2 separate regions of the Homo sapiens genome follow, and region 2 is linked to region 1. Evidence: fine-mapped expression QTL. A gene starts in region 1. The other region holds a variant in brackets. All regions are shown on one strand. Distances are between the middles of the regions.

The links. PIP is the estimated chance that this variant, and not a neighbour inherited with it, causes the effect.
Region 2: its variant is the best candidate, but not a certain one, in a credible set for the expression of CWH43 in sun-exposed skin (GTEx, PIP 0.86).

What each region holds. Positions count from the first base shown.
Region 1 is chr4:48,984,687-48,988,938 of GRCh38, reverse strand. It overlaps CWH43 (cell wall biogenesis 43 C-terminal homolog), which reads right to left and starts at 2,664. Exons shown (of 16, transcript NM_025087.3): 1 at 2,467-2,664; 2 at 271-462. The coding sequence starts at 2,509.
Region 2 is chr4:49,299,935-49,304,186 of GRCh38, reverse strand. No RefSeq gene overlaps it. Among named protein-coding and RNA genes, the nearest start is that of CWH43, 320 kb to the right of the region's middle. The variant T/G (reference allele first, on the strand shown) is at 2,074.

The sequences.
Region 1 (4,252 bases):
AGAGCTGATCAGTTCTTTAAGGTGTCTTTCCCCTACTCATTGCAGTGATTTTTAGGTCTTTCTAGTCTGGAAAAAACAATGGAAATGTAAAACACATTGACTCTCAGTCTAGTCTTCCAATTACTAAAGCTCTTCTAAGGCAGTGGTAAGGAAAAGAGAAATCTTTGATTTTTTAAATTCAAATATTTAGTATTCAAAGAACAGTCTACATAATCTCACTTGATTTTTAACTTAAAAAAAACAACTTAAAGAAACTCTTTTAAATCTTACCAATAGTGATTATCCTCAGCAGGGTTAGCATCCACTTCTTGTTAACCAATTTCCAGAAAGGAGTAATTGTTAGGAATATTGGAGAAAGAAATGCTATACTAAAACCTTCAAGCCCAGTGAGTTCTAGTGTTTGCAAAGGAAAGTAATAGATCATCGGTCCCAGGTCATGGTAGAGAGACCAAGAAACACATCCTACAAAAAAAAAAAAAGTTAAAGAGAGAAAGTGTAACTTCAACATTGTTTCTAACGACAGTCCTGTCCCTCCACTCCAGCCGCTTGGGCTGGTCATTCTTCTTCATGACTCTGGCCTGAACTGGGTTCCAGTTGTCTCCACTGACATGGAACAAAACAAGAGCTCTACACCTGTGTAGGGATCCGCAGAACTCACTGCACTGACTGTGTTGTGCTTAAGAGACTGATGGACAGAAAAGCAATGGCAATTTCCTCGTGAAATGTCACTATGTAACACATGACACTGAGTATATCTGTAGGATATATACCCAGAAGTGAAATTTCTGGTGAAATGTACATATTCTCCCACTCCTCGCATCAGGCCCCAGTAGAGGATGGCTTCCTGCTGCCGTGAGTCTCTCAACATCCCTTGCGTGTTCCTTTCCCTTGCCCATATGGCTGTAGACAGTCTCTTTATTAAGTCCTATTCATTTGGACCATCTGAGTTGAATTTGGCATCCCGTCAGGACCCTGACTGACAAAATTTTCTTACCTAAGTTGTCCCCTGTATAATGAAAAATATTGTGAGAGTCCAAAAGGGCAGCAAGCAGCAGGACTCCCTCCTCCAACCCCAGACTACACCCAAAAGCACTTGAGTGAGGCAGCAGTCGTTCCCTTGAGTAGACCATTTTCAGTCCAATCCTTATGAGGCAGTGCTGGGTAGTGGAATACCCAGATCTGAAGTAAGTTGTACCTCTGCCAACAGCTGCTGTATAATCTTGAGCAATAATGATAATTAACGCTATGGGCACTTGCCATGCACTAGGGTCTGTGCTAAGTATTAACATGTACCATCTGTCTCATTCCTTATACAGCCCCATAAGCTATGAGGTGGGTACTATTTCCGCTCCCCTCTTATAAATGCAAAAACTAACTAAGCAAGAACAAAACAACAAACAAAACACTGAGACTCAGAAAGTTAAGTGAGTACCTAAGGTTACACAAGTAGCAAATGTCAGAGTTGCCCTAACTCTAAGCAGCCTGGCTCCAAAGGTAGCCGGTCTAACCACTGGGCGTGGGAACTTTCTACCAACTGACTTTCCAACCTCCCCTTCTTAATCAGCAAAATAGGACTTTCAACCCCTTCACAGTGTTGTTGGGAGGATTAAATGAGATCAAGTGCACTGAGTACCTAGCACCTGAGGTACTTATTGAATGCTAGGCACTGTACATCTCCCAACTTATAGATACAGGCTGAGCCAGAAAAAAATAGTCTGAAGCACTCCCGAGAATTACCAGCTCCCAGAAAATCAAGTTCTCAGGAAGGCGCCCCACCCAGACCAGAGGGATCTTTGTTTTGTAACGAACCGGGGATTCTAGCAATATCCCAAATGTTTGTCTGGGAACTTTGATTTTATTACTCACACAGCTCCGACAGAATTACACCAATAAAATTGTCCTCGGGATTTTGCAAAGCTGGTGAGAGAGCAGATGAGACTCGAGTCTGATGCTTTTCGCCAAATGCCCAAGTGTGCAGCCGACACCAAGGCCACTTGTCCTGGGCCCAGCCCACGGCAGCAGCTGCCGCCCAGTGTCCACCTACAGCTCCTGGGGAAAACGGGTGCCCCTTTCCTTCTGAATTTTAAAGTTCAGCACTGAACTGTATTAAGTTAAACTTAAAGGCCACGGGTGGGGGGCTTTGGGGACGGTACCGGCCGCGCGGGGTCAAGGCCGACACGAGGAGAATTCGCGCTCCTTGGGCACAATCCCAGGGCTGCTGGGAACTCGGGCGACGGGGTCTCTCGCGGGCGCCTCGCAGACTCAGCTTGAAGACTTCAATCTAGGTCTTTTCCTTTATTCCCTTCAGTAGGAAAAGTTCCCAGGGGACGATAAGCATCTCCACTCTGGGCACGGAGCGCCCTTTTCCTCCTACCTGAACTCAGCCAACCTGGCCTGGCTCCACGGCTCTGGACATGGCCCGGGGAGCTGGCACCCGCGAACTCGCGGCGAGGGGCTTCGGCTTACCCAGCAGCGACTCCAAGAGGATTTCTCTCCACAGCGAGGGCATCGCCGCGGCGAGGGGCAGCGCTTTCCAGGAAAGCCGTGCGGGTCGGGCCCGCTGCCCTAGCCCTGCGCCCCCAGGTTCCCGCCGCCGCGTCCTCCCGGGCCTGCGTCCGCGCCCCTCGTTCCCGCGTCCCGTTGCCAAGTGAGCCCCAGCCAACTGACCCACTTGCCGAACCGAGGCAGTGTGGGGCCGGTCCGCCCGCCCCTTCACGACCACACCCAGCCTCGCCTGCCAGAGCCTGGCCAGGCCGGGCGCCACCTGTGCGCGTTGCGCCGCCTCCGGCGCCTCTGGTCCCCGCCTTTGCCTCCTTGGCGCGAGCCCCAGCGGCACCCTTGGCCGGTGCAGGGGACATGCGTCTCGGCTCTGACTCTGCTATTGGGCCCGAACCCGAAGCAACCCCGGGGATGCAGCGCTGCCAGAGCCCAGGAGGGAGCGAACAAGTGCAACTCCGGACCAGTGGTGCCCTCGTTTAGACTAGGCCCACGGGGTGCTCTGCGAGGAGAAGGCAGAGAGGAAGGACCGCTGGAGACCCAGATGGGGACCCTGGAGGAGCAGGTCCTGTGCACCAGCTCCAGCGCCCTGGAAGCCTTAGGGGACCACGGGGCGCGAACCCGACTGTGGCGATCTTCAGGCCAGGGCGACGCATCGGAAGCGTGCCGGCAGGGCCAGGGCCACTGCTGGGCCACTCTCAGCTTTGATAGTAAAAGTGCAATTTGTTAATTGCCTCCTAGCAAAGGGGCCCAAAATTCCAGCGGCTGCAAGATATTCTCAGGGGAGAGAAAGTAACTGATGCGAGTGGAAACCCGGCCCTCCCCTAGTTTATGAATAATGATATTTGAGAGTGCTTATCCCTAAAAAGAAGGTGGGAGACGTTCTGATTAATGTGGAGAGTGAACTAGGCCAGCTATTTCTCGCTCAAATGTATCACACTCCTGGATGTCTTGAACTTGTTTAAGAACCCCTGAAAGCAATTTATTTTAATGCACTTTAATTTCTTAAGGAGAGCTTATTATTTATCAGTTCCAGAAAGTTTGCTCTGAAATTAAACAATGATGGCATGCCCAAAAAGTATTAGAATCACATTAGCAGCAATCATTGCTATTAAGTCCATAGGAGTATTGAGCAAAGAGTTTTTTTCTGTTTTGTTGTGTTTGAGACGGAGTCCTGCTCTGTAGCCCAGGCTGGAGGGCGGTGGCATAATCTCGGCTCACTGCAACCTCCGCCTCCTGGGTTCAAGCGATTCTCCTGCCTCAGCCTCTCGCGCAGCTGGGACTACAGGCACGTGCCACCACACCCAGGTAATTTTTGTATTTTTAGTAAAGACGGGGTTTCACCATATTGGCCAGGCTGGTCTCAAACTCCTGACCTCATGATCCGCCCTCCTCGGCCGCCCAAAGTGCTGGGATTACCAGCGTGAGCCACCGCGCCTGACCAAGTAAACAGTTCTTAATCGGTTAATTACTAGCTCTCTCAATCTCAAGGGTAGATACATAGATTAATGGAATAGAAGTGAGAGACTGGAGATAAAAACCCCCTTTTAGGGTCAAATGAGTTTCACAAACTTGCCAAGACAATTCCACAGGGAAGAGTCTTTTCAAAAAAATGATTCTATGAGTACTATCTGTATGCAAAAGAATAAAGTTGGATCCATATTTCACACCATATACAAATATGAACTCGAAATGGATCAAAGACCTAAATGTAAGAAATAAAACTGTAAAACTCTTGGAAGAAAACATCAAAGTA
Region 2 (4,252 bases), 320 kb before region 1:
TGGTCTCTCTCAGGTCTTTGCCCTCAGCCCACAGGGACTCTTGTGTCTCTTTCAGCTACTCTCAAAACTTCTCTAGATTCCAGCTGGAGTCAGTTCCAGGCACCCACGATACAACACCGAACTCACGAATTTCACTGACTTACTCCCCAGTCTCCCTCATGTTCTCACCCCCAGCCCTCAGGGACTCTTCTGTCTCTCTCAGCTACTCTCCAACCATCTCCAGATTTCACCTGGAGTCAGCTTCCCGCACCCAGGAATCACCTACAAACTCACGGACCTTACTGCAACCCTCCCCCATTTCTTTCACCTCTTCACCCCCTGCCTTCAGGGACTCTCCTGGGTCTCCCAGCTTCTCTCCAGCCTTCCCCAGATTTCTGCCACAGTCAGCCCCAGGCACCCAGGACAACCCTAGACACTCACGGGCCACACGAGACTATCTCCCTATGACCTGTACCTATACAGGGATGGCTCCCATGCATCCCTCAGTGACCCCAAACCCATCTCCACTTACACTCAGACACTCCCAGGGCCTGACAGCTACTCCCCGTTATTGTCCTTCAGTTCGAAGCCCTGGCCAATCTACTAGCCCACATGACGCAGTTACCTGGCCATTACTCCACGGTTCCCGTGAGGGCCCCACACCCAGCCGCACAAGAGCCGCTCCTGCATTCCGTCCTCACACGCAGGCCTGTCCATCTACTTGCTACTGTCACACTCTTGCCAGCAGAAGAGGCCCCCGTCATGGCCGATATCACCACCCAGTCTATCCTCACCCCACAGCTGTGCAGCGGGACCCTCCTGCTGGCCCACGTGGCTGACAGAGCCCATGCTGGCACGACGCTCCAGCAGGTCGGCGTCCCTGCGAGACACACTACCGGTGACATGGCTAGCATCACCCTCCTTCCTGGCAGTGACACTGTTGATGTGAACCCCAGTTTCACATCTGTCATTTGGAAATAGGACCATTTTCCCTTTTCGCTCTCCCTTCCATTCACTGGGCTTTTCATTCTCTCTGTTTCTGCCTCCGTTTCAGATATTCACTCACCTTTTTCTCTCTCACTATGTCTGCCGTGGTCTCCATGAGAGTGCGCCACATAAGATTCCCCCATTAAAAGTCATGAATTGAGTGGCTTTTAGTACACCTGTGGTTGTGCACATTCAATTTTAATTCGCAATCCATTGTAGAATGTCTTATCACCCCCGACCAGAGAAAAACCCTGTAGACATTAGTCACTCCTCATTCTGTCTCAAACCCTCTCCCTGACCCTCAGCCCTAGGTAGCAACTAGCTAGTGCGATCAACCACATATGCAGAGATTTCCATATTGTGGACATTTCCTTTAAACGGAATTGCACAATAGGTGAGCTGTTATGACTGACATAACACGTAGCACAATATTTTCAAGATTCCTCCACATTGTAGGCTTACCCACAGGGGGAAACCATATTTTTGGGGGGTTTTAGTAACACCGGGTGTTTTCTCCTTCCTTTCGTCCTTCTTTCCTTCTTTCCTTCCTTCTTTCTTTCCTTCCGTCCTTCCTACCTTCCTTCTTTCCTTCCTTCCTTCCTTCCTCCTATTTCTCTCTTACTCCTTCTGCCCTCTCACTTTCACATGCCTTAGGTGCATCCCACATTCTGCGTTTTCTTGGGGAAATCCTCGACAGGTGCAGGAAAATTGTGTTATTGTAACTATTTACCGCTATCTCTCTTTCACGGCTCTCCATCAGTTGTGAACATCTATTGGTTTATCGCAAGTCACTAAGCATATTTTTATTATGTACACCTGTTTTTCCTTATACAGCTGTTTCTGGAGTATAGGGTCGCATACTCATAAACCCAGTGTAACTCGGAACCGCATCTAATATTCCAATAAACCCATCATAACGTTGAAAAATCATGAATCAAACCATCATAAGTCACGGTTTGTCCATGGATATGGGTGTCATCAATTCCATTGTATACAGTAATGCTGTACACCATTAACAATGGCAGACTGATTGGGAGTGCATATTGATCGCATTATAAAAGTCAGTTATTAGAGGGATACTTCTTTAACCTGACTGAAGCACTGATC[T/G]AATGGCTTTAGTACAGTGCATGATTATGTGAGATGTTTTGAGACAGAGTAATACATTTGTGAATGAAATTTTATGGCTTTTTTTCACTTAGTAGGAACCATTGTGTGTGGAAAAGTGAGAAAATTCCTTTCTGCTGTAGAGTCTGGCATTCATTGTAGATTTAAGATTATTTTTCTGTGAGCAAATCTTATTCAATAAAATGCTACTCTTTATACTAAAAAACAAAAACAGCGGTGATGTGTGGTCATTATCCTCAGCAAACTAATCCAGGGAAAGAAAACCAAACGCCACATTCTCACTTACAATGGGAGCTGAAAAATGAGATGACATGGACACAGGAAGGGGAACAACACACACTGGGGCCTTTCGGGAGGCAGAGCGTTAAGAAAAACAGCTACTGCATGCTGGGCTTAATACCTAGGTGATGGGTTGACAGGTGCAGTAAACCACCATGGCACACGTTTACCTTAGTAACAAATCTGCCCATCCTGCACATATACCCCACAACTTAGAATCGAAACGAAACAAAAGAAAACGAAAAAGCAGTAGCAAAACGCTAAAGGCAAAATAAAGTTTCAAACTCAGAAAGTGACAGACCAATGTTTGGTTCAAATCATGGTTCTCAACCCAGGTGCCATAAGGTCAGGATAAGGAATTTGATTACATATTGTAAATAAGACATGCAGCAAATGACCAGAAAGATTATTCTCAACATATGTGTGTCTTCTAATTCAATGGTGACGCTATCTACCGGGACATAGCATTGGATTCCAAAGGGCCGAGTCCCGCCAGGCAGGCCTCCCACACTAGTAACAACGGGAAGCCCTACGTTGTTTTACCTGTGCTTCTCAGCAACTGGCTATAAATCAGGTTGCCACCACTCCCAGATTTAGTTGCATTCATTTGCTGGAAGAGCTCACGGCACTCGGGGAAACACTTACATTTGCCGTTGTTATTTAGCGGACATTGCAAAAAGTTCAGAAATAAATGTGGGGCCCGGCATGTGGGGAGGGGCGCACTACCTTCCAAGAAGTGTTATACAGAAGCTCTCTGATCCCAGTCCTTTTGGGTTTTTATGGAGACCTCATTCTATAGGCATGATGGGTTAAACCATAGGCTATTGGTGATCAACTCCACCTGAGGCTCTCAACCCTCCCTGGAAATTGGGGTTGAGGCTTTGCCATTCTCAGTCTGAATAAAAGAATTTACCCAAACGGAATTTTAAAACAGATGAGCACAACTGGAATCTTAATTAGATGATTGGATTATCTGGAGCCACACCTTGATATTCCGAACCCGAGCACCCTCATCCAACGAATGCTCCACCCAACTGGCTCCCAAGTCTCCACCTGGTCCCAGAGCAAAAGAATGTTTATACAACGCATATCTCCACCTTTTCTTCAAAGTCTTTTCGCTTACACGGAAAGACTTCTTAAACTGCCATGCATCAGGGTCAGGGGGAGGTCTTGTTACAACACAGATCTGTGGATCTCCGGGGTTTGATTGTGGCAAGGATGCTGCTGGCGTCAAAACCACAACGTGGGAACCACAGAACCACTAGTTGGTTTTCAGTGTTTCAGTGCATACAATTCCTAATATATCTGGCCAAGAAAACTTGGAAGTTCTTAGATTGTTCCAAAGGTGGCGCATGAAATCAAAGTAGAACAGTTTCCTACGAGGTGTAGCCTGGGAAAGTTGGGGGTGACTGACGGAAAGGAGGAGTGAAGCTCCGCCCTTTCCGCTGCTAGGTTGCGCCCGAGGCTATTTAAACCCACGCTGGCTGGCCTGTACTCAGATCTTCGCGGAGCGGATCAGCGGCCGGAGCCTTTGGCGGACTCTGCGTGGACTTGGAGCTCACGGCGTCTTGCGACTTGGAGGCAGATTCAGAGGACAGGACAGAACACTTGGGCAAGTGACTCTCTGTCTGTCTGTCTGTCTGTCTGTCTGTCTGTGTGTCTGTCTCATTGGTTGGTTGATTTCCATTTTCTTAAGGGGCACATACCTCACACCGCACACACACAGACACACACACACGCACACACACTCCTTCCTTCTGCGAGTTAGAAAATTAGTAGGGGCCCCTGGGAGCTGCAGGTTTCCTAATCATGTCTGCACCTAAGAACAGTAGGGTCTTGTCTGGCTCTTCTTATGAACGGTCCCCCAGCCCGGACTCCCCAA